7 linked regions of the Homo sapiens genome follow. The protein of the gene in region 4 purifies or fractionates together with the protein of the main gene of each other region. This does not show direct contact. Each region holds a gene or a part of one and is shown on either strand. Other genes may lie near its edges. The genes, in order: PUM3, ZNF324, RPF2, RPF1, ZBTB11, CAPG and PDLIM2.

Region 1 (3,844 bases), on a different chromosome or scaffold from region 4:
TATGCACTAAGCTAGAACCCAGGCAGTCTGTCAAGTGCCAATGCTCCCAAATGTTAGAGAATTCTGCTTCTCTGAGTTACTTTTCAGCCAACATACAAGGCTGATTTTCTTTTCACCCAAAATTTACAAAAACAATTTTTTTGTATTATTGTTATATATAGCTCAACTTCCATTTAGAACTTCAAATATTTCCTCTGCTCCTGTTCCAATTCTGAGTAGTGCTCCATAATAAACCTATAGTATCCTTCCTATGTTTGAAATCCACCTAATGGGAGTTCTGATTGATGAACAACCTTTATAAATTAATTTCATGGCATTGCTGAAATTTCCAGTTAATTGAGTGTAATGAAAGAATGTGTCAGTAGGTGTTAACACTCCAAATGCCTGGTAAAAAAATTTGTAATGAAAAAGTTCATGTATCAGCTAACGAATTCTGACTGTTTAACATCAACTGGAAAATTAACTAATTTTAAGCAGAAATGAACAAAATGATCTGTAACACTTATATATTTGGAGACACTGACATACCTGAAGCTATGAATGCTCCTGTGTGAGTATTATGTGTACCAGATCACGTATATGTTGAAGAAACACTTAAAATAACATTTACAAACAACATAGATTAAGTTGCATAGCATGTTGCAAGTAAAGTATCTTGAGAAATTCAAACTAGGGTTGGTATCTGTTTTCCCAAACCTTAATAACACAGCAGGGGAAAAATCAACAGTAATTGCTTCAAAGCAACATACAAATCTTTTTTTAAATGAATGCTCTTAACAGAAGGTTTTCATCTGCACAGAGAATGTATGGAAAATTTCAATGATTTGTGGATTGATTATAAACTCAACTAAGTTCAGAGAATAATACAAAAGAGGCCATAGCTCATCACTGTTTTTTTCTCATTTTAAGTCAGATATCAACAAATAGCACACACACTTCAGTAGCAAATGCTCTTCCAATCCTTTTACAATCTTTTAAAACAATGAAGGAAATTACATGTAGAATTAGGCATGATTTAAAAGTCAACATTGTCACAGTTTTCACAGGGATGTAAGTTATTCATTAAAAAAAATACAGGCTGGGCACAGTGGCTCATGCCTGTAATCCCAGCACTTTGGGAGCCCGAGGTGGGCAGATCACGAGGTCAGGAGATCGAGACCATCCTGGCTAACACGGTGAAACCAGGTCTCTACTAAAAATAAAAAAAATTAGCTGGGCGTGGTGGCGGGCACCTGCCGTTCCAGCTACTCAGGAGGCTGAGGCAGGAGAATGGCATGAACCCAGGAGGCAGAGCTTGCAGTGAGCTGAGATCGCACCACTGCACTCCAGCCTGGGCGACAGTGTGAGACTCCATCTCAAAAAAAAAAAATTATGTTTTGGTCAAAACCATAAATGTGGTGAAGCCACCTGATACCTTGTGAATGTTATAATTTGTCAAAAAGATGGTAGTTTAAAAATCCTAAGGGCCAAGCACAATGGCTATGCCTGTAATCCCAGCACTTTCGGAGGTCAAGATGGGAGGACTACTTGAGCCTAAGAGTCTGAGATCAGCCTGGCCAACACAGGGAGACCCCCATCTCTACAAAAAATAAAAAAATAAAAATTAGTTGGGTGTGGTGGCATGCGTCTGTAGTCTCAGCTACACAGGAGGCTGAGATGGGAGGAAAACTTGAGCCCAGGAGGTTGAGGCTGCAGTGAGCTGAGATCGTGACACTGCACTCCAGCCTGGGTGACAGTGAGACTCCATCTCAAAAAAAAAAAAAAAAAAAAAAAAGATTCCTAAGGACTGACTGAAAGAGTTACATTTGCTTTCTAATATTTGGTATGTTTGTCTAGACCATGAGTGACTGGGAGTAATATTAGACTACTGAGAACAAATATTAGAACTGAGAAATCAACGTGAAGGAAGTGTGTCTTTTGCATGACCAGGCCCTGCTCAGAGAAGGGCACATGTTATACATACCTAGAAAGAATAATGGCACCTCGATTTACACTAGCCCAGGACTTCAGGTTCTTCATACCAACATGCTCTACAAGTGTTTTTGCAAAACAACCTGTAAAATATACTGAAGCTTAGTGAACATCACATAATAAGATATATACTCCCTACCCCCTTCTCTACTGCCCTTAAATCTGCAAATATTTTTAAACAAAAAAGCTAACAAAAGTAGCTTTCACCCAATCTCCCTTTTAACACAAAAAATTCCAGTGCAGGTTTATCTAATGCATTTCTAAAAGAGCCATTTCTTTTAACTCTGATCCAAAACCTAAGCTATGTTTAGCAGTAATTACTCAAGATAAACTATGAATTCTAATAAAACACTCACTTGGTTATGTCTGCACTTCTTTGTATTATTTAATGATTTAACTTTGACCTGAAAGCTATTCAGGAAATAAATGTTTCACAGTAGCACCTCATGCTTGGTTGAAATCAAGTTCTTCCTCATGGAGAAATGCTCACTCACAAGGTGCCATGAACATAACACAGTGTTCACGTGTTCAACAGTGGTTGATAAATGACTGTTCTAGCTTAAACTTGGCATTTCTCTTTACAACGCTTACATACTCACAAATCAAAAATACCATTTTTCTCCCGTTATTCTAGTATTTGATTCCCAAGGTCGTGGTATTATCTTTTTCACTTTGCAATTAATGCTTGGACAAAGGAGAAATTCTGATAGCTAAGATTTAGTGCAGATGGAGGTAGGGACAACCTATCTTGAAGGCAAACATCATAGTCAGGTAGCATGTACTATATAATTCATTCAAAGATACCTGAATGTAAGGACTCTTTAAAAGCCAAGAGGCCTATGGCTATTCAGCCTTTCATGGTACCTGCTAAAGAGGGACAGAGTTCAGCTAGTGAGGCAAATTGTTTTCCAAAGCTGACCACAATAATATCTCCTGTCCTGTGTGCTCTTCTAGAATGCAGCCACTCCCCCATCTATAGGGGGAATCCATGTCTTCTTTTGAATCACAGTGGGCCTCTGTGATTGACTTGACCAAGACAGTATGATGAAAGTGGCATTAAATGACTGCTAAGGATAAATCATGGAAGTGCCACGCATTTACTTTGTCCTCTTGGGATGCTCACTCTTAAAAAAGCAACCACCATCTCGTGAAGGAGCCCAAGCAGCCTAGAAAGGGAAACTGAGGCTGTTGGTCCCCAGCCAACAGTCAGTACTCACTTGCCAGCCATGTGAGTGAGCTAAGCGAAAAGTGGACACTCCAACCACAAACCGAGCAGCCCTAGATGACTCTGACTCTGAGCATAGAGGGGCAGGCTCCACCAGACCCTGATCAAGTCATTGTTTTGAAAACTACTAAGTTTTAAGGTGGCTACTATCCAGTAAAAGAGAATCAAAACAGCTAGACGTGCAGGAGGACAAACTCATTTGGTGCTGAATACGACAAGACAAACACATCAGACCCAAACTGGCAGATTTTAGGGTTCTCAGCACATTTTAATTAAGAGGGAGAAAAACCACTGGACATTAAGCCAGACTACTTTTCTGGCATAAACTCAACTATACATCAACTTTTTAATAATGAAAAAGATTATTCCATATGTTATTTTTTTCTTTAATATTTATCACAAGGCTTCTCTTTTACAAAAAAATTTAGTGAAAAATAGCCCCAGGTCCCCATTCTTAAAGGTAAGGTGAGAAGTGACAGCTCTACTGCTATACTGATTGCCACACTAGCCATCAGAGCTGCCACTTGCCGCAAGACATGAATTCATGATCTGTCACTTTTTTCCAGACATTGTAATGAAAAGCCCAAACTGTTTTAACTCAGTAGGGGAAAAAAATCTCTCCAGTGGTTTAAATACCAGATGGAATTT
Region 2 (4,448 bases), on a different chromosome or scaffold from region 4:
TCCACCTTCAAGGGCAGCTAAGGCTGCAGCCTCCAGGAGGGGCTGATGATGGAAGGGAAGGGAATCGGGTGGGAGGGAGGGGAGGAGGGTGCTTCTGGGGAGTCTGGGAACCAGGGACAGAGGCATGACCACAGGTTGGTCCTGAATTCACCCCACCCTGAGCTCCCTCTCACCAGGGTTGCGCCTCCTGTAGGTGGTCCTGGACAGGGTTGTGTCCGTTCCACTGGGAACCCAGGGCTCCTCGCCACGCTCCAGTTGGATGACCACACGAGGTCGAGAGGTGGAGAGTCCTGTGAGGAGGAGGTGCAGGTTAGAGTCCAGCCCCAGCTCAAGATAACCCACCTCCAAACAGAGGGCAGGAGTCAGGGCTTCACGGAAACAGAAAATGTCATCTGTGCAACTGCAGAATCTAAAGATGGCACAGGGCAAGGGGCTCACAGGAATAGCTCATTCATCCCCAGGGCAGCAACTGTGCCCAGGGCACCAAAGGAAGGGGACTGAGCCAAGGCTCGGAGAGGCCACAGCCGGACAGCGCCACAGGGAGTGGTTGAGCCAACCAGACTGCATGTCTATAGGACCAGACCCCTATTCCACATGGCTCCTGGCTGCAAGGTATAGGCCTGCTCGTCAGCCACCAGGGAGGTGAGGGGGCAGCCCTGGCCAGTCAGCTTGTTATCAGTTGCCCATTTCATGGAGTATCTAGGACCTTACCCAGCGAGGCCACAAGTGCGAAGTTGTCTAGCATCACGCGGCGGTACAGGGCCCTCTGGGCTGTGTCCAGGAGCCCCCACTCCTCCTGGGAGAAGTACACAGCCACATCCTCAAAGGCCATCTGGTCCTAAAAGAGCAGGGAGGAAGAGACAGCCATGGTCTAAGGCTGGGTTATCCAATCTTTTGGCTTCCCTGGGCCACATTGGAAGAAGAATTGTCTTGGGCAACACATAAAATACATTAACACTAATAACAGCTGATGAGCTAAAAAAAATAAAAATTGCATAAACATCTCATGTTTTAAGAAAGTTCACGAACTTGTTTTGGGCTGCATTCAAAGCCATCCTGGGCAGTGGGTTGGACAAGCTTAGTTTAAGGTATGGCTGTGAGCCAGGACCAAGCTCCCCATCCCAACAGCCACCTTCCATGATGTCCCTCAGACACTCACCCTCCTTCCCTGGGTTCTGCCCCCACCATCTTCAGATGGCACTTCCCTCACATGTCTGGGACCCCTCCCCTCTGCCCTCCCTGACCAGACCCCAGATGCCTTCTTGGCCTCCCCACTGGCAACGCCATACACAAGCAAGCTAGAACAAGTCCTGGCTGGGCCCTCAGCTGCCACACCAAGAGCAGCCCCAGGTGTCCACTCGTGACTCAGCATGACCACTCATGACCCTCCCCAGATGCACCCTTCCTGCTCTTGTAGCAAGAAACTGTGAGTCCCAGCAGGGGCTTCCCAGGCATACCCATCACTGGGACCCTCCCCTGCTGAGCCTGCTTGCCTGACATTTCCAGGCTGCTCATCCAGCCTGAGGGACTGGATGATTCTCACCAGTCGCCACAGGGGAGCAGCCTCAACAACCTGTGAACACAGAGGAACTCAATCCCTTCCTCCTTTCACCCGGTGTCCCCTTTCTTCCCCTCTCTGTTGCCACCCTCCCCTCCTCAGTTAGGTGCTAGGCTCTTCCCAATAGCCCCAGGCATCCCAGCTGGTCTTCTTTACCCTCAAGCCATAACTGCCCACACCTGGCTGAGTCCCTGCCCATTCCTCAGTCCAATTCATAGGCCCTGTCCACAGCCCAGGACGCCAACAACGTCAGGTCCAGTGACATGACCAACCTGGGACATCCCAGACTCTTGATCTTTCCCCTGAAGGAAACCTGCTTTCCTTTCAATTCTCCTTTCTATCTACAGCAGCTCTCTTCTTCCAGGCGCTCAGGCTGAACAACATGGGGTACTTAGTTCTTCAAACAGCCCACACCTGATGCATCCGCAGATCCACCAGAATTCACCTGGTCGCCCACCTCCACTGCTGCCCAGACTGTGGCAGTCGGTTCTTCCCTTCATGCCGACACCCCTGCATGTCTGTTCTCCACGCAACAAACGGTGGAACCGTTTTAAAGTCCTCAGAGGATGTCCTGATTCTGTTCAAAACTTCTATGTCTCCCGACGCCCTCGAGATAAAGCCCACTCCCTCGCCTGATACTGCAGCCGCACACATCCCCTCTACTCCAGCTCCACATCGAGAGAGCTCAGTCCCAGAAGCACCTGGGCTTCGGCTCCCCTCCCAGGTTTTGCACACGCAGGACTCTCCCCTCGGAGCCTCCTTCGGGACCTCAGCCCCCTGGCTGCCCGAACTCGGGAGCTCACCAGTGCCCTGGACGCAGGAGTTTGCACTGACCCCCGCAACCCCCCCAGGGCAGGGAGAGGAAAGACGACTAGGCGAGGTCTAGGAAGCGGCCTCCCTCCGTGAGGGCGCGGTCTGTGTGAGCAGGGACTCCCCTGCTTCCCCGACGCGGGCTTGTCAGCGCCACCGCCGCCAGCGGAACCCGCAGCTGGGAGGGAAGAAAGGCGTGGACCACCCAGCCTTTCCCCGCCAGCAGCGTCCCGGGGCCGCCCCGCGCCTCAGTCTCCCCGGCCATCATGGACGTGGAACGCCCAGCGCGCAGCCTCCTGGGCTGCCGCACGGTGGGAGAGCGCATGGCTCCCGCCGCGGCCCGACAGTCCCCTGGACGCCCACGACGCACTCTGAGAAACAGAGGCTTGGGGGCGCGGCCGGCGGCCGGCGCCCTTGATCACGACGCGTGCGCAGGGCGGGCCCGACGCGGGCCCTCAGCCAGTACCTTCCTCGCCGCCAGCCTCGAGCACCAGGAACCCCCTGGAAACCGGACCCGACCCGCGGTCCCCAGCCCAGACCACCGGTGTGGCCTGACGCGGGCGGCGAAGTGACAGTCCCACCGCCGGAAGTCCAGCCCTTCGGTTCTCATTGGCCCAGTGCGCGCCGCGGACGCTTGCGTACAGCCTTCCGGGTCACGTGGTTCCCGCCTGTTTCCCTGCGTGGAGGCGGGGCCACTACCGGTCTCCTTGGCAACGTCCAAGCCCCTGCCGCGCGGGGCGCTGGGAAATGGAGTCGCGCGGCGGCCTCGGGTTTTCAAGGGCTTGGTGGCGCTGGTGGATTCGCCCGGTGTGTAGTCCTGCCTTCGGCATTCCAGGTGTCCTCCCAAGCAGTCCCGGAGACTAAACCCTGCAGGTGCGAAAGCAGAAACTGCCGAGGTTCCAAGAGGCAACACCAGCAGTGAGCACGGAGGAGAAAATGCACCGGGTAGCGCAGGTGGAGGTGGAGGAGCCGATGCCTGGAGCTCCGGGTTCCCTTCCCAGCTCTGCCTCTCACTGACTGTGCGTCCTGGGCGCGGGTTTGACCTCTCTGTGTCAATGTCCCGTAAAGGTTTAAGGTCCGTTTTCAACCTTTACACCAAGAATTCTCAGCCCGTAAGCCTACATTTGTCTTAAGTATGAGACTGTTCCTCGACACTTGCCCAAAGCATCTGTTTTCCTTGTAATTTGGATGGGCAGAAGTTAATTCCCCAGATTTGCTTGTCCTTAGACCATCTAGATCTTGTCTTGCCCCACACATCACAATATTCATTCTTTTTTCCTTTTTTCTTGGGACTCATTTAAGTTTTTTTTTTTTTTTTTTAACAGGGTCTTTGTTCTGTTGCCCGTGCTGGAGTGCAGTGGCACAATCTCGGCTCACTGCAACCTCTGCCTTCAGGTTCAAGTGATCCCCCCGCCTCAGCCTCCGTAGTAGCTGGGACCACAGGTGTGCGCCACCATGCCTGGCTAATTTTTGTATTTTTTAGTAGAGATGGAGTTTCACCATGTTGGCCAGGCTGGTCTTGAACTCCTGACCTCAGGTGATCCGCCCACCTCGTTCTCCCAAAGTGCTGGGATTACAGGCCAATTTAAGTGTCTTTGACACATAAAAACGAAAGGCAGAGCAGTCTCAATGTAGACTGTCTTGTTTGGCAGATAATAAAAGGTTCTTTGTCTTGTTTTTGGAACCTGTAGACAGTTCTCAGCTGTCCAGTTCCTTAACTCTTTTTGCCTCCCTCCCTCTATACCTACCTCCATCTATAACTATCTCTCTGTCAACTGTCAGCTATAACTGTCCACCTAATTGATTCTACTTGTAAATCCTTGTAGAGCAAGGGAGCTCATCATGTTTGGAATGTTTTAATATAAATTTTGCTACTTTGAAAGAATTTAAGAACATTTCAGGACTGGGCGCAGTGGCTCACACCTGGAATCTGAGCACTTTGGGTGGCCAAGGTGAGCGATCACTGGAGCCTAGGAGTTTGAGACCAGCCTGAGCAACAAAATGTGACCCCATCTTTATAAAAAAATATAAAAATTAGCTGAGCATGGTCTTGCATGCCTGTAATACCAGCTACATGGGA
Region 3 (3,844 bases), on a different chromosome or scaffold from region 4:
ATGCTTTTATTTATACAGTATTATTATACTTTAGGTTATCAAGTTCATAAAGTTATTTATCATACTTCTTGGTCAAAATCCTAACAGTGTATATACCACTTGCATGACGTCTTTCCCAACTAGAAATGATCTTTCTCTCCTCAGAACTTCCAGAATGGTTTATACTGTTCTCCTTTTAATGTGCTACTTTAAATTGCAGTTGTTTGTATGTATTCATATCTACCTAGAATGCAGGGCCCCTGATAGAAAAATGCTATATGTCATTTATCACTTTGCATAATAGGTGCTCTGGTACAATTTATTAAGTGAATGGATTCTTGCCAATGGTATTCATGTGTAAACAATACTCTGTTGTGTTCTAGCCAGAAAATATCATGCTGTTAGACATATTTGCTTTCCGGTTACTAAGTACTACCATTTATGCCCTCCCGTTTTCATTCATTACTTGTTTGTGTTACCTTGATGATTTGCAAACTTTAGTGAAATTTCAGTTTGGCAGTTAAGAGAAAATGTTGTAATAAAAGGATGGCTGGTTAGAACTATTGGATACAGACTGAAAATCCTTTTATATTCATAGTCTTAGAAATTTTGACTTAATAAAGAGTACTTTTCCATGTGCTTATTGTGTTCCTAAAGTTTTCTCCCAAAGCACAGATGTCCTGAAAATTTTGCATTATGAAAGTTGTTTCAGAGCAGACTGGAATGTACATATTTCGTTTCCCAGAAGTACTCTGACTTCAGTAATGCCACACCAATGAGTGAGCTTTATTAACTTGGCCACTGAAGGAGAGTCAGGCTTTGGCAAAATCATGGGAAAGCTCTTTATTATGATATTTAGATTAAAATATCTTGAAAAGTACAAACTTGTTTTATAAAAATGTCCCAGGCCAGGCGTGGTGGCTCAAACCTGTAATCCCAGCACTTTGAGAGACCAAGGCAGGAGGAGTGCTTGAGTCTAGGAGTTCGAAACCAGCCTGGGCAACATAGTGAGACCCCATCCGTACATAATATATGTATAAATATATGTAGTATATGTACTTTTTTTAAATTAAAAATGTTCATTAGTTTTTTTTTTTTCTTGTTTGGGGGAGTAGAGGAGGGTGGTGTATAAATGTGCCTGCCCACTTGTGTTTGTTTTATACAAGTTAATGCTGTGTTTTTTGTTTTTTGGGTTTTTTTTTTTTTGAGACTGAGTCTCACACTGTCGCCCAGGCTGGAGTACAGTGGCGCAATCTCGGCTCACTGCAATCTCCGCCTCCCAGGTTCAAGTGATTCTCCTGCCTCAGCCTCCCAAGTAGCTAGGGAGGCACTTGCCACCACACCTGGCTAATTTTTTGTGGTTTTAGTAGAGATAGGGTTTCACTGTGTTAGCCCCTATGGTCTTGATCTCCTGACCTCATGATCTGCTCGCCTCGGCCTCCCAAAGTGCTGGGATTACAGGCATGAGCCACTGCACCTGGCCTGTGATTTTCTTTTGGTTAAGCACAAGAAAGGAAAAGCAGACAACAAAAGATGCGTTCATCTGTGCACATGGAGATAATCTGCATCTTATGGGCTAATGGGAAGCAGGAAGGAAAATGCTAGGTGGCTACAGAATGGGACTAGAACAGAATTTCCCACTTACTACATCACCTGCCTTGGGCAGCTCTTCCTAAGCAAACTTGGATAAACTTTTATATAGACCTTTTATCTTAGCCAAATGTTATTCATGAATTTCCATTTAGCCTCCTTGAGGTTCGATTTTCTCAGCTGTAAAATTAAGATATCACACTTGTTTTCCAAACTTCTTTCATAGCCAAGTCTGTGTAGTATCCTTAGCGTGCAGTTCACTGGAGATTTTCTTTTAATTGACTCCTCTTTTTAAGTTATTGTTTGAGACAGGGTTTTGCTCTGTCGTTCTCACTGAGTCCAGTGGTGGGATCAGCAATCCTCCCACCTTAGCCTCTCCAGTAGCTGGGACTACAACCTGGCTAATTTTTTATACTTTTAGTGGAGATGAGGTTTCACCATGTTGCCCAGCCTGGCCTCAAACTCCTGAGCTTAAGCAATTCGCCCGCCTCAGTCTCCCAAAGTGCTGGGATGACAGGCATGAGCCACTGTGCATGGCTGACTACTCTTTTTAAAAGGAAATTTTATGTCCCTATTGTAAATGGAGAATGGTACAGGATAAAATAAATACGTAGTAAATTATATCTGGCTTTGTATCATTAAAATGCTCTCATGTGCCACCGGTGGTATGATTACCACTTTGTGAGAAAAAAGACTATCACTGATATGCAAGGTTCTTTTCTGGCATTAACAGTTTATAAAGTTTCTTATCCTTTGTTCATATAATCAAGATTTCTTATTAGAGTTTTTTTCTTGTTGGCCTCCCTCATAGAAAAAAAAATTAAGGCTAATTTGATTTTAATAGTCAATTTGAACAGCCATTTTTATAGAAATTTGCTATCTTCATCTACCAGTAGATTAAAATTTTATGCTTTGATTTACATTTTTTAAAAGTTAGTATTTTTAATGGATATGATTTTTTGATGCTGAGCTGACTCAGAGGAAGAACTTCAAAACAGAAACATTAAATGTCTCAGTGAACTGAACACCAAAATACCAAAATAAAGTCATGAGATTAAATGCTTAAGGGGTGGGACCTTCAGACATTTTTCAGGAATCATTTTTTGTGCTTTTTTAGATAAGTATTGGAGCAAAACTGTTTAGAGTGCAGTTCTTTGTAACTGAATTTTGCAAGTATTTGTTTTGTTTTGTTAATAATTTAATATGTGCTTTTAGATTTCTTCAGAGGCCCCACAGTATCAAATATCCGCCTGGCTGGATTAGAGTATGTTCTGCACTTCACTGCACTGAATGGGAAGATTTACTTTCGAAGCTATAAGTAAGTGCATTTCTTCACATATTTTCTTAATCCTCAGGGTTAGTGTTTAAAACTGTGTGACTGTTTTTTAGAGCCCAAACTTAGAATTGGTATCTGGCCAAAAGGTTTCTTGGAGAGTTGGCAGGATAGCAGTGACAGCAGCTCTGTGCTGATCCTCAGTCCTTTGCCTCTGAAACCCTACTTTTCCAGTGCCCCAGAGCATCTGATGCTGCACTGTCGCTGAGCCAGGTGCACCAACCCTTCCTAGCTTTATGCAGCATCTCTTTATTGTTCTTGGTTGGATTTACAGCACTAAGCCACAAATCCTTGGCTAGGCAAAGCAAATCTCAAAACCCTAAGTCTTAACAATTGAGTCTAAAAGGAATAAGAAGATTCAGTGGCTAGATTCATTTCACTCTGTCTCTCTAGCCTAGGCCTTCTACCCCTACCACAATATAAATATAAATCTTAAGCAGGCCGAGCATGGTGGCTCACACCTGTAATCTCAGCACTTTGGGAGGCTGAGGCAGGCAGATCACTTGAGGCCAGGAGTTCAAAACCAGCCTGGCCAACATGACGAAACCCCATCTCTACTAAAAAAAACCAGAAAAATTAGCCCAGCGTGGTGGCACATGCCTGTAGTTCCAGCTGCTCAGAAGGCTGAGGCACAAAAATCGCTTGAACCTGGGAGGTGGAAGTTGCAGTGAGCCATGATTGTGCCACTGCACTCCAGCCTGGGCAACAGAGTGAGGGCGCTGAAAAAACAAAAAACAAAAAACTCTTAAGCAGATTCTATGTTTATTAAAGAGTTAATGACATGCTGTAATTGTGGTTCTTTTTTTTTTTTCTTTCTTTTTTTTTTTTTTAATTGATCATTCTTGGGTGTTTCTCGCAGAGGGGGATTTGGCAGGGTCATAGGGCAATAGTGGAGGGAAGGTCAGCAGATAAACAAGTGAACAAAGGTCTCTGGTTTTCCTA
Region 4 (3,844 bases):
GTATTAAGCCCAGCATCCATTAGCTATTCCTGATGCTCTCTCTCCTCCCACCCTCTTATCCCATACTTTAAAAATGACTTAGTCTTTTTAAACAATAAGCACATACCTTATGGACCCATTCATACTCTCCATATTTAGAATCAAAGGTTCCTTTCTGAAGAGACCTTAATTTTAAGGTAAAACGTGGTCCAAGTTCCTGAATTCCCACTTTCTTTTCACTCCTGAATATGTATCTTCAAAGACAAAAAGAGTTAAATTAGTCTGAATGAGCTATTGTTTAACATTATGACAGGGTTCAAAAGATAATTCATTTTATCTTGTATGATACTTGCTACAATATGTTGGAAAATTAGTTCATGTTGAAAATATATTTCATAATTGAAATCAAAGTTCAATGAGTTTACCTTCCTCACCTGTGAAATCTGAAGAATATGTAATCCCGTTGATTGTGGAATGTGGCAACCTGCCTTCCGATAAATTGAGGATTATGAGGAAAGAGAGATGCAAACATACGTCCAATTGAATGACCCAGCCGTGTTGTAAAATTATTCAGAATTATTTCAGGTATGTGTTCTGTGGGGTCCTTGCCTCTTCTCTAGAAAAATAATGAAAAATAAATATCACAATGGGCTAAGCTAATTGGCAATACGTCCCAATGCAATTTCAAGTATCAAAATTTACATGACAAATTTGCAAAATGTATTTTTTAGTGACAAACTACCACAGATGGCTTATCAAACCCATGAAATAAGATGTATCTAAAATTATTTTAATATGCACTGAATGCAACAACAAAAAAATCCTATTAGAAAATCAACGTGCTTCATAGTAATGAAGACTATTGCCTGCCGGCTGTAACTTAACCACAGTCTCCCAAGAGAATTGATAGATTAAAAACTGCTCTAATCAGGAGAACAAATGCCATTATTAAAATAAATTAGAGCTATAAGATACAGCATCTATTGATCAAATAAATATTGTGAAGAGATCAATGCCAATCAAAGAAATGTATAAAACTTACCTTAATTTCTTTACGAAGACGAACACTGCTCATTTTAAAATGAGCAGTTGGGCCATTTGGCAAGTGACTCAAAATAAGTCCATCTGTTCATAAAAGTTAAGAAAAACACATTGAACTCTGTAATCTAAATCTAATTGTTTAAATAACTGGTCCTCTACATCCAAAGGCCCCTAAAATCTGTACCCAAGTGAATAGGCAGATGTACATATTCCTCTGAAGTGACATTTTCCTACCATATCAAAAGCTCAAAATCAGTCAAAATCTTTCAAGAATATAGACTAACCTAGAGTAGTCCTTTTTTTCTCTTTTTACAATATAATAGTTAATCACGCTCAATAGGGTATCTTAAGGTACCCTAAACTAAAGTAGGTGAAAAAAAGCTATTTAATTGACCACTACTCTTAGGAGTAAAATAGGATGTGATTCTATAATCATGTAACACTGCAAATAGAGTATGAGTTTACCTCCACGTTCTAAAGATGTATAACCCCAAAATGTCACTTTTATACATTTGTATGGTCACGATATGCTGTCAACTTTGAATAACATCCCATGAGACCAGACTCCTAAACTTTCCTCTATGAAATTAAGGTTATTAGTATTTTGCAAGAGATCACCCCTTACTTAGGATTACTGTACCCCAAATTATAATCAACAAACCAATTAATAGCCATTCACTGACTGTCATTTCCCATGAACTGAGAATTATGCTAGACATGCTAAACTACAAATGAAATGTGAGATCACCTACCTACAACCAGCAGGACTAGCAGCCCAAGGACTCTAGAAGTCCTGGGTGCTGCAAACTAAGGTTGCTACCTATATAATATTCTTCAAGTTTGTGGCACAATCTGACCTTCACTTGAAACACCTTTACTTTTCATGAGTAATTCTTGGCTATTGCTTAATGGCATTACAAGCAGGCATATTAATGACAATGGACAGGGCTTTCACTTTGTATTATGCTTTTCTAGTTTAGGAGAAATTTTCAAACACATTTCATCTGATTCAACAACTTAAATAGGCCAGAATCAGATGGTTTCAAGTCTATCTGCATTTAATATGTATCTTTCAAAGCAGATGTTGCCATCTTTTTACAATGGCATCAACACTCATTCCTCCAGATTAGAAGCTATGGTATCTTCAGCTTCTCCCTCTCCCACCAAATCTTAACTGCTTTTACCTTCAGAAGTTCTCACTTAGCATCCTCTTTACCCTTACTGTCTTAGTGAGGTCCTCAAGATTTTCCACCTAGATTATTAAGGTAGTATTGTGGTTGGTCTGACCTTTTTCTCACCATCTCAAGTACATCTCCTAATGCAGATTGTAAAATCAAGTCTGGACTTAGGCCTTGGTTCTATAAGTAACCAGCTATGGGACTCAGCTGTTTCATTATATCTGTACCATAGTTTCTCACATGCTAAGTGAAAAACAAACTAGATACCTTCACAGTCTTGACAGCTGTAGCTAATTTCATACTACTCTCATCACAGACTCATCTACAGAAAAAAGACATTAGTATCAGACTCATAATGTGGCCACAAATTACCTTTTCAACCTATTTACCCTATGCCCACATCAAGCCTGTTTCCTAACTGGTAGGTACTCACAGTCTTATGTACTATATATGTGAATCCTAGCATGCATTTTTTGCTTCTGCTATTTTGAATACCTGCAACGTTTTACTCATCTATTATGGTCTACTTCAAATGTCACCTTTTTATGTAGTCAGAATTAAGATCTAAATCTTCTCAGTTCTGCTACCACAGCACTCATCACTTTTTGAGTTAGGAAAACACCTTTCTTCCCAACTAATCTGTTAAAACTTAGGTAGGGATGGGAATTTTTTTCTTTTGTTTTTTTTTTTTGAGACGGTCTCACTCAGCAGCCCAGGCTGAAGTGCAATGGCACGACCATGGGTCACTGCAGCCTCAACCTCTCGGGCTCAAGCAATCCTCCCACCTCAACCTCCCAAGTAAATGGGACTACAGGCATCATGCCCAGCTAATTTTTGTAGAGAAAGGGTTTTGCCATGTTGCCCAGGCTGGTCTCAAGCGATCCACCTGCCTTAGCCTCCCAAAGTGCTGGGACTGCAGGCAGATCTTTTTTTTTTTTTTTTTTTTGATAGTAGTGCCTACCATGCATCAGATTATCAGCAAACGTTTGAATTCTATCATTTTAAAAGATTCACCACAGGCTAAACTTCATGAAATACAGCCAAAAGTATTTATTAAGGGGTCTAGGAGATATAAAAGTCATTTCTTCCAACGCCCAAATCAAGGCTTAAATCCTTTCTAGAACATTCCCACTAAATTGTGGTCTGTGTCAAAAGCCAAGTACAAAACCCAAACTTACCAGTTTCTAAATAACTTCTTTTCCCATGTACCTGCATTGTGCAAGAGGCTTTATTTACATTACTGCTAATCCCTAACACAAATCACATAAAACAGGAGTCATCATGCCTATTTCAGTAATGAGGAAAAGAGGCTGAAGAGGGTCAAGTAAATTAGCCTAAGTAAATCAGACTAAGGCAACTGCAGATCTCAACCACGGTGGGACTGCACCTAGCTTAAGCCCCCTGCTGACAGCTGCTCACATTTGGAAATGTACAGAGGCATTTTGTTTGTCAGTATGACTGAGGTGTTACTGGCATTTAGAATCCAAAGGCCAGGAATGCAAACCATCTTGGAAGCTGCCAAGAGTGTAGCACAAATAATTACCCTACCTCAAATAACAGTAGTTCCCCATTTAGAAATAATGAATAGAGGATGTAGGTCTGTACAGATAAAGTTTACATGCTTCTCACTATACCACGTTTACTAA
Region 5 (3,844 bases), on a different chromosome or scaffold from region 4:
AGTTTCCAAGAACTCAGTAACTATTTTTAGTTTTTTAGAACTCCAAAAGATGATCTCAACTTAAAAGAATTCCCTAATTTTCTAATCTTACATAAAGGCTACAGGGTTTTAGGTTCTTTTCATCTTAAGACTACTAGAAATGTTTTAGAAAGAATCGTGCATAGTTCCCAAAGGTTATTACAGAGGAAATTTACTATTCTCTCTCCTAAATTACCCCACTTTGAGATCCCTATTTCAACCCTCTCATTCTTAGTCCATGTGTTGAGGGTAGACTTTACCTTTGACCCTAGGGATAGAGCAAATGACTTGGGCCTAAATTAATCACAACAAAGCATTCCCTTGGCCATAGTGATTGACTCAGGGATGACTGACTTAACTTGATGTAAATGGAGTAACTCTCAGGGCTTTGATGGAACTACCAGAAAAGAAGTTTGACAATTTGGAATTTGAGAGGATATGAGACTGAAACCACTGCCATTGTCTTGTCCATATGGTGCCTCAGAGAAAACAAGTGCTAATGAATTTGAATCCAGTTTACATTAAACCACCCAGACTCCTAGACTTTATATTTAATTCAAGCCTGTTTGGGTTGGGTGTACTTTCATTAATAACTAAAAATGTATTGATAACAAACTATCTTTGTTTCAAAATAAGACTAATTAGAGTAACATCAACAAATACATCAAGTAGGAAGCTCCAAAAGCCCATCTCTCCACGAAAGTAGAGGACAAACTGGCAAACTGTTAGAATCAACCTTACCAGGAACTCTAAAAACTAATGAAAAGCTTATAGTGACTAGGCAAATGTTTAACAAAGAAAAAAAATTGTCGAATCCCTGTAAGAGAGCTTTCTGATGTACCCCTGAACCTAAAAGTTAAAAGAAAAGCAAAAGAGAGAGCTTCCTGGCTTTTGTTTCCTAAGAGACAGGGTCTTGCTATGCTGCCTGCCCAGACTAGTTTTGAACTCCTGGCCTTAAGCGATCCTCCCACCTGTCTCCAAAAGTGCTGGAATTACAGGCATGAGCCACTGCGCCCACACTACCACCCTAAAATGACTTTTTTTTTTTTTTGAGGCGGAGACTCACTCTGTCACCCAGGATGGAGTGCAGTGGTGTGATCTTGGCTCACTGCAACCTCCCACCTCCAGGGTTCAAGTGATTCTCCTGCCTCAGCCTCCCAAGTAGCTGGGACTACAGGTGTGAACCACCACAACCGGCTGATTTTGGTATTCTTAGTAGAGATGGGGTTTTGCCACGTTGGCCAGGCTGGTCTCGAACTTCTGACTTCAGATGATCTGCCCGCCTTGGCCTCCCAAACTGCTGGGATTACAGGCTTGAGCTGTTGTGCCTGTCCCGATTAATTTTACGTTATATGAATTTTACCTCGATTGTAACAGAGATTTTATTTTAGGAGGATCTGGAAAATGAAGAAGAGGGGGGGAAAGAAACTGGCTGGCAGTGAGACTCTTCTTTCCCACAGTCCCCACTTCCAGGTAGTACATTTGAAAATCTGAAATCACTTTAAATGAGTGATTTGTATGGTAAATGATTTACATCTCGAAGATGTTAAAAATAGTAACCCTTAAGCAAGAAAAAAAGGACATTAAAATCAAGAGTAAACTGAAGTTACAGTTTAATATTATCTTCAAATATTTTTTTGAAAACTGAGTAAAAACATAATTAAATTAACTGAATGCCTCACATATTGAATACTTACTGAGTACAATGATAGCCTCGAACCTCAGGCTTTGGTTGGTGTTTCTTGAAGTGCTTGCTGAGTCCAGAGCCCCTATGAAAAGACTTTCCACAAACTGAGCAAAGGTACTTGGACTCTCCTATTAGAAAAAATTAAAACCCTGTCACATATCCAGCAATCAGTCCTCTTTTAACAGAATTTTTTTTTTTTGAGTGGCATCTCACTCTGTTGCCCAGGTTGGATGGAGTGCAGTGGCGTGATCTCGGCTCATCGCAAACTCCACCTCCCAGGTTCAAGTGATTCTCCTGCCTCAGCTTCCCGAGTAGCTGGGACTATAGGCACGTGCCACCACACCCAGCTAATTTTTTGTATTTTTAGTAGAGACGGGTTTCACCATGTTAGCCAGGAGCGTCTCGATGTCATGACCTTGTGATCTACCCGCCTTGGCCTCTCAAAGTGCTGGGATTACAGGCATGAGCCACCACGCCTGGCCTTTAATAAACAGAATTCTTCATGTCATATTTCAGAAGTTACTTTACCAAGGGGACATGGAAGCTATAACATTTGGCAGACATCTAAGATTAACAATAACCCATGTCAAAATCCCCATTTCCTGTCAACAACCATAGTACTATCAGAGGGTATGACCCTAGTCATGTGATACGGTTGTATGATCTATGGATTGTAATAGTACTAGAGTTGAATACAAGTTGCAGCAGGTATCTACCCTTCATTGGCTATTCCCACATTTTTGCTTTAAAACATCTAAAAATAAGTATGTATGGACAAAAAAATATAAGCCAACTACTATGTTGACATTATGTCTCCCTACCATTTAACTTTTTAAAAGCATGATCATTTCTTTATGACTGGATTTAAATTATGCATGATTTTAACACTTAGTACACATTTTTCTACACTGAGGGAAACAATGAATATTCCATACACAAACATAGCTGTAAAACCAGATCTGAGAAAACGCTTTTTTTTTTTTTTGAGACGGATTCTTGCTCTGTCGCCCAGGCTGGAGTGCAGTGGCGCGATCTTGGCTCACAGCAACCTCCGCCTCCCGGGTTCACGCCATTCTCCTGCCTCAGCCTCCCGAGCAGCTAGGACTACAGGCGCCTGCCACCATGCCCGGCTAATGTTTTGTCTTTTTAGTAGAGAAACGGTTTCACCGTGTTAGCCAGGATGGTCTCAATCTCCTGACCTCATGATCTGCCTGCCTCGGCCTCCCAAAGTGCTGGGGATTACAGGCGTGAGCCACCGCGCCCAGCCTGCACTTTTAATTTAAAATACTGTCTCAATACAAAATTGAGCACACACGACTATCAGTTTATCAATATAATTTCTGGTATAATTAAAGCATAATCATTAATAGTTTATGAAATGTAACTATGTCAATATAAATTTCTCATTACCTGTGTGAATACTCATATGTTCTTGAAGACTCCGTTTGGTAACAAATGACTTAACACACAGTTCACACTGGAACTGCTTCTGTGATTGATGAAGACTCTGATGTAATTTTAGACCATGCTTATAGATAAAAGTCTTTCCACAGACCTAAGATAGAACAGGGGTGATTAAGTCAATAAAACAAAAAGGGAGATTGTTTCTGAACAATGAAGACAGAGAAAATGAATATATTATTTTAAATAAATATTTAAATTATTTAATTTACAATAAAACATAATGACAAAGTGAAAGTTGAAACCAACTTGAAAGTTGACCCCTCTTCTGATTCAGTATTCAACAAATATTGTTATCTTTCTTAAATCCATGTGATCACCAGAGATTCTCAAAATAGTAAAAATCAGACAAACCTCATGCTATCTTTGAGACTGGTAAACAGTATACCTTATATTAAGAGACATGGAAGTTTAATCAAGAACAATATACCATTTCCTGCTACACCAACTAGAACAGTGCTTTTCAAACTGTGATGAAGAACTAATTATTTTTTTTTCCTTTTCCACAATCCACTGGGAGAAATTTTTGTTAAACACAAAAATTTTTGTTAAAAATGACGTGACAATGCCAAATTGCTATGACAGTTTCTACATGCTTACTCTCTATTTCTGTACTTATTGTCCACAGACCACACATATTGAGTAGTGCCACATGGGAAGACCAGAGGCCCAACTAAT
Region 6 (3,401 bases), on a different chromosome or scaffold from region 4:
CTGAGGAGTATGGGCTGCGTCTTGTGGCGCTGAAGATTTGGGGCAGGGAGATCAATCCAGGAGCTCTTGGTGAGGACTACACGTGCTGAGACAAGGAAGGGGACAGGTGAACAGACCTCGCCATTACCAGAAAAGGAGAGGTGACAGGGGCTCTGCCTGGCAGGGCGGTGGGTAGAAGTGTGAGATGCTGCGCTCAAGGAGCCATTCAGCCATTCACCCATCCAGTCCTTCACTCAGTCAGTCAATATTTATTTTGCGCCTAAATCCATGCCGGGCTCTGTTTTAGCAGTGGGCCCACAGTGGTGAGCAAAGCCAAACAAAACCTTCATGTCCTAATGAAGCTCACTTTCTAGTAGGTGGAGATAGGTGGTTAAGAGACGTTTAAACATAGGAGATATGTGATGGGAAGAAAAATAAAGAGGTGCTGGGCGTGGCTGCTCACGCCTGTAATCCCAGCACTTTGGGAGGCCGAGGTGGGCAGATCACCTGAGGTCGGGAGTTCGAGACCAGCCTGACCAACATGGAGAAACCCCATCTCTACTAAAAATATAAAATTAGCCGGGCCTGGTGGCACATGCCTGTAATCCCAGCTACTCGGCAGGCTGATGCAGGAGGATCTCTTGAACCCAGGAGGTGGAGGTTGCGGTGAGCTGAGATTGTACCATTGCACTCCAGCCTGGGCAACAAGAGCGAAACTCCATCTCAAAAAAAAAAAAAAAAAAGAAAAAGAAAGAGGCTTGAGCCCAGCGGTTTGTAACCAGCCTGGGCAACATAGTGGGACCCCATTTCTACAAAAAATTAAGAAATTAGCCAGGCATGGTGGCAAGTGCTTATAGTCTCAGCTGCTTAGAAGCTAAGGTGCAACGATTGCTTGAGCCCATGACGTCAAGGCTGCAGTGAGCCATGATCACGTCTTTGCACTCCAGCCTGGATGACAGAGTGAGACCCTGTCTCGAAAAAAAGAAAGGAAGACAGATGGCAGGTGGGCAGAGAAACAGTTGCAGTGGGTGGTCGTGGGCATTTTCAGAGAGCCCTCTGTGCTGTGCTCTGCCTTCCTGGTTGTCCTGCCTCAGGGACAGTTCAGAGAGGAGAGAGGGAGAGCTGTGCGCCCTTCTCTGAGCTGGGGAGCAGGACACAGGCATCTGGCTCTGACCCGGACTTTCCTGCTTCCTTGCAGAACATCTTCGCCTGGTGTGGTGGAAAGTCCAACATCCTGGAACGCAACAAGGCGAGGGACCTGGCCCTGGCCATCCGGGACAGTGAGCGACAGGGCAAGGCCCAGGTGGAGATTGTCACTGATGGGGAGGAGCCTGCTGAGATGATCCAGGTTGGGGGACATTGGAGTGGGTGGCTGGGAGCCTCTGCTTGAAAGTGGCCAAGAGAGGTGGTGATGAGCTGAGGGCTGAGAGTGGCCGGTGGAGGGTGGCAGGGGCCATCTGGTGTACTGCCTAGGGCTGTGGCCAGCTCACAGGGTGCCCCTCTGGGTAGATGCTCGTCCTCGAGGCTGAGCAGCCTGGCTGGTGGGGTGGGCTGGACTCAGCCCTCACTCACCTCACCTCTGCTGGGTGCCCTAGTGCAGGGCGCAGTTTGCCCCACCAGAAGCAGTGGCCCTGGGCATGATGGGCTGGGAAGTTCCAGGGCAGGGGTCCCTATAAACCTGGCCTGCCCTGGCCCCTGCAGGTCCTGGGCCCCAAGCCTGCTCTGAAGGAGGGCAACCCTGAGGAAGACCTCACAGCTGACAAGGCAAATGCCCAGGCCGCAGCTCTGTATAAGGTGGGCCCCCCAAGCCTGCCCTGGGACCCGGCAGCAGGGAGGGTGGGAGCCTGCACAGCACAGCTGCATGCAAGCAGGGTGGAGGGGAGAAGGCAGGGGGAAGGTGGGGCTGGAACCGAGGTGGGAGGTGGGGAGTTATACAGGGCTGGGAGTGAGACAAGGATGGGGAGTGGGCGGAAGGCAGGCCCTCCTGAGGAGATGAGTGCACCTCACTTCCAGCCTATGCTTGGTGAAGGCTTGAAGCCAATGCTGAGCTTTTCTTTCTTGAATTCTGTGCATTTCTTTGTAATTTGGAATCCACCTAATTTCCAAATGGGTTCGGGGCCCCTGTGCTGCAGGGATTGGGGTGATGAGAGGGAGTGGGGCTGCCTGGAATTTGCTTTTCAGGTCTTCACTCTCTTGTCTGCTCCTGGGACCTGGGCAGTGGGCAGCGAGGCACAGTGGGAGGGACCTAGGGAGGACCAGCCTCCCCCTCCTCAGGCTGAGGTGAGGGCTGGTGTGTGGGGGGTGAGATCAGGCACTGTCCCTCCTCCCCAGGTCTCTGATGCCACTGGACAGATGAACCTGACCAAGGTGGCTGACTCCAGCCCATTTGCCCTTGAACTGCTGATATCTGATGACTGCTTTGTGCTGGACAACGGGCTCTGTGGCAAGATCTATATCTGGAAGGGTACGTGGCTCCTCTGTAACAGCCTGAGATGCCTGTAGCTGCTCTGACCCGGGCAGGCTTCCCTTTGCAGGACTCAGCCTGTCTAGCTGCTTGTAAAAGACAGCCTCAGGAAGCCTGCATGCTTCTGGCTGACCATTTTCTCTCTTTAAAAATTTTTTTTAAAAGATAGAGATGGGTTCTTTCTATGTTGCCCAGGATGGTATCAAACTCTCAGCCTCCAGTGATCTTCACCTTGGCCTCCCAAAGTGCTGGGATTACAGGCGTGAGCCATGGCATAGGCCTTGCTATTTTCTTTCTTTCTTTCTTTCTTTCTTTTTGAGAAGGAATCTTGCTCTGTTACCCAGGCTGGAGTGCAGTGGCACGATCTTGGCTCACTGCAACCTCTGCCTCCTGGGTTCAAGCAATTCTCCTGCCTTAGCCTCCCGAGTAGCTGGGAGTACAGGTGCGTGCCACCACACCTGGCTAATTTTTGTATTTTTAGTAGAGATGGGGTTTCACTACCAGGCTGGTCTCGAACTTCTGACCTCAAGTGATGCACCGGCCTCGGCCTCCCAAAGTGCTGGGATTACAGATGTGAGCCACTGCCTCGCCATTTTCTCTTTGCTGTTCCCACCTCCTAAATTCTAGACAATGGCTCTGAAACTACAGCAAGCCTCAGAATCACCCCACGGCCTGTTTAGATGGCTGGGCTCCACCCCCATAGATTCTGATTCACTAGGTCTGGAGTGGGGCAGAACATGCATCTCTAACAAGGTTATGGGTTATGTCTGTGCTGCTGGTTCCAGGGATCACACTTTGAGAACCACTGCCCTAGCCCAGCTCTAGACCTTTGGGGCTTCTGGGACCCCTGATCCTGGGATTCTGTCTCAAGGTTTGACAGAAATGAATTTTAGACAAATTAAACATCATTTTATGCAGTGAGTGGTGAACCTGTAGAACTTGTTTTTCCAAAAGATTC
Region 7 (4,405 bases), on a different chromosome or scaffold from region 4:
TCCCTTTCTCAGGGGTCTCCCCAGTTAAACAAAGGGCGAGACCCGCCTGCCTCCTTCCAGACAAGTAGGCCCAGCTCCCCACCAGCGAGAGGGGCACGCCCTCCCAGCTCCCTGGGTACCCTCTTCCAAAGTGGAACCCAGCTGGAGCCCTGAATGGGAGGTAACTGAAGTCTGGGCTGAGGGACAGCCTGCCTCGTCCCATCTTGCCACACATTCCTGGCCGTGAGGCTGCCTCTAGAGATGTAGGGCAACAGGACCCTCCGCTTCCTGGGAGAGCCATGGGATCAGGGTGAGGAGAGCTCAGTCTCTGGCTCCAGCCTGGAGCCCTGCTTCCTGCCCCAGGGCTTCTGAATACCAGAGAGGTCACCTGGGAGGGTAGGAGGCGGGAGATGGGGGCGGGGGGGGGGGTGGGCATCACGTCAGCAAAAGTAAGGAGACTGGGCCGGGCGCGGTGTAATACCTGTAATCCCAGCACTTTGGGAGGCTGAGGCAAGTGGATCACGAGGTCAGGAGATCGAGACCATCCTGGCCAACGTGGTGAAACCCCATCTCTACTAAAAATACAAAAATTAGCTGGGCGTGGTGGCACGCGCCTGTAGTCCCAGGTACTCAGGAGGCTGAGTCAGGAGACTCTCTTGAACCCGGGAGGCAGAGGTGGCAGTGAGCCGAGATCACGCTACTGCACTCCAGCCTGGCAACAGAGCGAGACTCTGTCTCAAAAAAAAAAAAAAAAAAAAAATTAAGAGACTGGAGTCTGGGCTTGCCTGGTGCAGAACCAGAGGCCTGACTTACAGCCCAGGCCTACCTCCCCCGAGCCCTGGTCCCTCCAGAGAACCCCAGAGGAAGAGACAGTCCGAGGCTCCTGCCCTTCCGCTGCCAGACCCTCAGCCTCCTGTAGCTTTCTGCCCCATTCCCAGATGCCATGAGGTGCTCTCTACCCTCCTTCTTGGGGTCCCGCTCCTGCAAACACCCAGGGACCTGAATGACATGAAGGGAGCCGGCTTCTGCCACACCACAGGGCAGGGCAGTTGGAGAAGGAGGGGCTTGGTAGGGCTGAAGAGAGCAGGACAATGTGGGGGTGGCCAGGATGCAAGAGGTGTCTGACTCAGGTTCTAGGCCCGTGCAGAGGGCTCTCCTGGCTCGGGGATCTCCTGGCATTCCCGATCTGTGACTCACTGCAATGCCCCACCCCAGGGAGCCACCTGTTCCCCCTATAGCTTGGCCTCCAGGCCCCACCCTGGCCCCACCTTGGCTTATAGGCTCAAAACCCTAGGAGTAACCCAGGATCGGGCATCTGCCTTCAGTGATGGGGAGGAACAGACAGCCTCTATGAGGAATGAGCCCCCCAAGTCCTCACTTCCAGCTGGGAACTAAACAAAGGCCATGCCCTGTTGGAAGCAGGAGTCCTGGGGATGCAGCCTCGGGCATACCTTTCCCAGAAGGTTCCCCTCTTCAACCCACTTCATGCCCACGCCCTGTGCCCTGCACACTCTTGGGAACCAGTCAAACCCGGGCTTCAAGGTGGCTGGTGCCAGCTCGCCCTGCCCAGCCTGTGACTGCACGCCCAGCCTGGCGCCCACCTTTACCCAACCAGGCATGGGAACACCCCTCAGCCCACCCTGCTGCAGGAAGCAGAGCCCAGGACCTTCTCACCAAGGTGTGGAGAGGGCCCAAGAAGGCCGCTTTAGGGCTGAGCTCTAGCCCATGGGCAGGAGCAAGGGCTGCTCAATACGTGGGGTGGTGGAGGAGGGGGAATGCCACAGGCTCTGCAGAGCGGGAGGCCCTACCGGTCCAGCTGCAGCCGCAGGGGCGAGGGGCTCTGGCGGATCTTGCTCTGGGCCTCGGCATGCAGCATGCCCTCCGCGCTTTCCCCGTTGATGGCCACGATTATGTCTCCAGGCCGGAGGTCAGCGTCCTTGGCTTTGCCCCGCTCGGCCACCTGTAGGGATGAGGAGCTGGCATGCTCAGACCGTGGCCCAGCTGGAGAAGGGACTTCCCACTCTGCTACCCAAGAAACACAGAGGCTGGCTTGACCCAGGCCGGCCTGCACCCTCCTGCATGTCCCTCTGCCTGCTCATGACACCCAGCTGATCAGCCATCCCCTCCAGGAGCGCAGGTGGCAGCCCCCACCCCACACTGGCATTCTAATGGGCCTCCCAAAGAATGTGCAGTGGCAGAATTTCAGGAACTGTGCTTGGAAATACTTTTGGATAGAGAGCCTTGCCCGTGCAAATCGCACCTTGCAGGTGGCTGCCTGCACAGCCCTCCTGTGAATGTTCCCAGCCTGGGCCCAGGTCAAGAGGAGACTGCCAAGAACTCCGGGGCTCTTGTTCTAGTAATCACCCCAAATGGCTGCCTGCAAGTGTGGGGATAGCAACTGGGGAGGCAAGAGCCGGCCCTGTCCTGGTCCCAGCTCCCTTTCACTCCCAAGGTCTGTTCCTGAAGTGGCCACCACATCCCCGTGGCAAAGGGCCACGGCTCCCTTACAGCCAGCACGCCAGGCAGCAGCAGATCCCTAGCTCCAGAACAGAAAAAGCAAGCCATCTGTGCAGAGTGGGGTGAACAGGGCCGACCTCGCTTCTGGCAGGACCTTCTCATCTCTTTGAGCCACCATCCTTACCTTAGTCACCATGATGGGCGTGTGGAAATCCCTGCCCCCTGTGATACGGAAGCCCCAGGGCGCTGGCCCGGCCACATCCACCGTCAACGCCATACCTGAGGAAGAGAGGACCAGGAGGTGAAGTCCATGCCCCTAGCCGGCTCTGGGGGCACTGTAAGGCAGCAGGAGAGGAGCCAAAGGGAGAAGGAGAGGGCACCACAGCTCCCGGAGCAGCTACTCAGGGGCTTTGGGGTGGGTAGAGGAAGTGGCTAACTCCCTCCCTCAGCCCGGTTTCACTTCCCCCCACCCTGGGAAGCCATGCTTCTGGGTTCTCCCTTCCTTAGTCTTCAGCCCAGGGAGCGACTCCCAGGAGGGGGCTGCCCAGGCTGCCAGGCAGGGGGCTTGCTGGAGCATGGGGGGCAGGGGCTGGCAAGTGGAGGGGATGCCAGCACCCCCTCAGTCTCCCCTCCTCCACCATCAGGGCTCAGTCCCACTAGCGCTTGCTTCCTGTCCCCAAAACCCACAGCACACGGTACTTCCTCTCCACTCTGGGGGAGGGCTGGTGAGTGGCCTAGGGAGAGCAGGGCTCAGGAAGCAGGAGTGACGGGTCAAGGAACAGGCTGGCACCAGTACAGACTGTGTAAGTCACTGGCCAGGTGAAGGACTGGTGGGGTGAGGCCGAGTCTTCACATGGGCCTCCTAGCTGCCCACCTCGTTCTTGGCAAAGTGGATCACACGGGCAAGACCGGGCTCCCCACCTCCCCCAGGGGCCGGCTGCCAGGGCAAGGAGGCCAGGGTTCATCTGTCAAGCTGGACACACCCACCCCCAGATTCCTGATGCTGCCCGACAGACAGCCGGGGTGACAGGCCTCCCATCCACAGCCCCTCCGCTGGGCAAGGAAGTGCCCTTGCAGACAGACCCCTGTGGGATTTCCTGAGCCTCTAGCTCTGGAGCCAGGAGCCAATCCAGGCAGGAAGCCGCGGTGCCAGGCTGGGCACCACCCTGCCCAGCACCCATCCTGGGGCTGCCCTGGGGACGCAAGTGCTGCGAGAATCTATCAAGAGCACCAGCGGTCTGTCCGCTCCATCCCCGGCTGCCTTCCCCTTGGGCCCAGGCCTAGCCTCTGTTCCCAGCACCGCCCCCACCCCAGTCCCCGAGGCCGGCTCGCGGCCGCCCCGAGATTCCCAGACCTTTGAGCCGGTCAGTGGACTCCGCGCTGCGGGCGCCGCGGGGAGGTGCCCAGCCCGATGGCCCGGCTCTACCAGTTCTGGAGCCTCCTTCGCTCCGAGGGCAAAGTACCCTGCGGGCTGGGGGCTGGAGGAGGAGCGCTCCGGCCGGGGAGAGCGCAGCTCGCGGGGGCGCCCCCGCTGATGCGAGGCTCCAGGGAGCTGGGCCGCGGACGAGGCCAGGGTTCCGCGCCGACAGGGGCGCGGAGAGGAGCCCGGCGCCGGGGAGGGCGGGCCGCGCGGAGAGGCGCAGGTGGGCGCGCTCACCTGGCTGCCGCTCACCTGTCCGGCTGGGCGCCCAGGCCCGGGAGGGAGGGAAGGCGGGGAGACGCCACCGCTCCCGCTGCCGTCTACCCGACTCTGGGGAGAGCCCGCCCGGGGCTCCCGGACCTGCCTCCGCCCATGTGATCCCGGGGCCGCCCCTGCCGCCGCCCCTAGCCCGAGAAGCCGCCGCCTCCGCGCGGCGAGCCCAGGCGCTGCCACCTGGCCCGAGCCCGCCGGGGGGATGAGGCAGGCTGTCCCCAGGGCCCCCTGCAGGCTGCGACCGTCCAGCCGGTGGTGCCCGCATCCTCCCCGGAG

What was found.
Region 1: the proteins of RPF1 (region 4) and PUM3 fractionate together in Homo sapiens (co-fractionation; one large-scale study listed by BioGRID). This does not show direct contact.
Region 2: the proteins of RPF1 (region 4) and ZNF324 purify together in Homo sapiens (affinity purification with mass spectrometry; 2 studies listed by BioGRID and IntAct, with this or other methods). This does not show direct contact.
Region 3: the proteins of RPF1 (region 4) and RPF2 fractionate together in Homo sapiens (co-fractionation; one large-scale study listed by BioGRID). This does not show direct contact.
Region 5: the proteins of RPF1 (region 4) and ZBTB11 purify together in Homo sapiens (affinity purification with mass spectrometry; 2 studies listed by BioGRID and IntAct, with this or other methods). This does not show direct contact.
Region 6: the proteins of RPF1 (region 4) and CAPG purify together in Homo sapiens (co-immunoprecipitation; one large-scale study listed by IntAct). This does not show direct contact.
Region 7: the proteins of RPF1 (region 4) and PDLIM2 purify together in Homo sapiens (co-immunoprecipitation; one large-scale study listed by IntAct). This does not show direct contact.

What each region holds. Positions count from the first base shown.
Region 1 is NC_000009.12:2,805,851-2,809,694, forward strand, and holds part of PUM3 (pumilio homolog 3), read right to left. Parts: intron 2,055-3,844; coding exon 1,964-2,054; intron 1-1,963. UniProt on the Homo sapiens protein: Inhibits the poly(ADP-ribosyl)ation activity of PARP1 and the degradation of PARP1 by CASP3 following genotoxic stress. Binds to double-stranded RNA or DNA without sequence specificity. Involved in development of the eye and of primordial germ cells.
Region 2 is NC_000019.10:58,465,570-58,470,017, reverse strand, and holds the start of ZNF324 (zinc finger protein 324A), read right to left. Parts: upstream 2,939-4,448; 5' UTR 2,835-2,938; exon of another isoform or gene 1,840-2,834; coding exon of another isoform or gene 1,831-1,839; intron 839-1,830; coding exon of another isoform or gene 833-838; coding exon 712-832; intron 291-711; coding exon 174-290; intron 1-173. UniProt on the Homo sapiens protein: May be involved in transcriptional regulation. May be involved in regulation of cell proliferation.
Region 3 is NC_000006.12:111,012,970-111,016,813, forward strand, and holds part of RPF2 (ribosome production factor 2 homolog), read left to right. Parts: exon of another isoform or gene 1-619; intron 620-2,784; coding exon 2,785-2,887; intron 2,888-3,844. UniProt on the Homo sapiens protein: Involved in ribosomal large subunit assembly. May regulate the localization of the 5S RNP/5S ribonucleoprotein particle to the nucleolus.
Region 4 is NC_000001.11:84,492,633-84,496,476, reverse strand, and holds part of RPF1 (ribosome production factor 1), read right to left. Parts: intron 1,105-3,844; coding exon 1,022-1,104; intron 596-1,021; coding exon 414-595; intron 234-413; coding exon 107-233; intron 1-106.
Region 5 is NC_000003.12:101,652,989-101,656,832, forward strand, and holds part of ZBTB11 (zinc finger and BTB domain-containing protein 11), read right to left. Parts: intron 3,261-3,844; coding exon 3,116-3,260; intron 1,834-3,115; coding exon 1,716-1,833; intron 1-1,715. UniProt on the Homo sapiens protein: May be involved in transcriptional regulation.
Region 6 is NC_000002.12:85,397,062-85,400,462, reverse strand, and holds part of CAPG (macrophage-capping protein), read left to right. Parts: intron 1-1,177; coding exon 1,178-1,327; intron 1,328-1,680; coding exon 1,681-1,773; intron 1,774-2,310; coding exon 2,311-2,443; intron 2,444-3,401. UniProt on the Homo sapiens protein: Calcium-sensitive protein which reversibly blocks the barbed ends of actin filaments but does not sever preformed actin filaments. May play an important role in macrophage function.
Region 7 is NC_000008.11:22,578,913-22,583,317, reverse strand, and holds the start of PDLIM2 (PDZ and LIM domain protein 2), read right to left. Parts: upstream 2,844-4,405; 5' UTR 2,716-2,843; coding exon of another isoform or gene 2,714-2,715; coding exon 2,621-2,713; intron 1,940-2,620; coding exon 1,788-1,939; intron 1-1,787. UniProt on the Homo sapiens protein: Probable adapter protein located at the actin cytoskeleton that promotes cell attachment. Necessary for the migratory capacity of epithelial cells. Overexpression enhances cell adhesion to collagen and fibronectin and suppresses anchorage independent growth.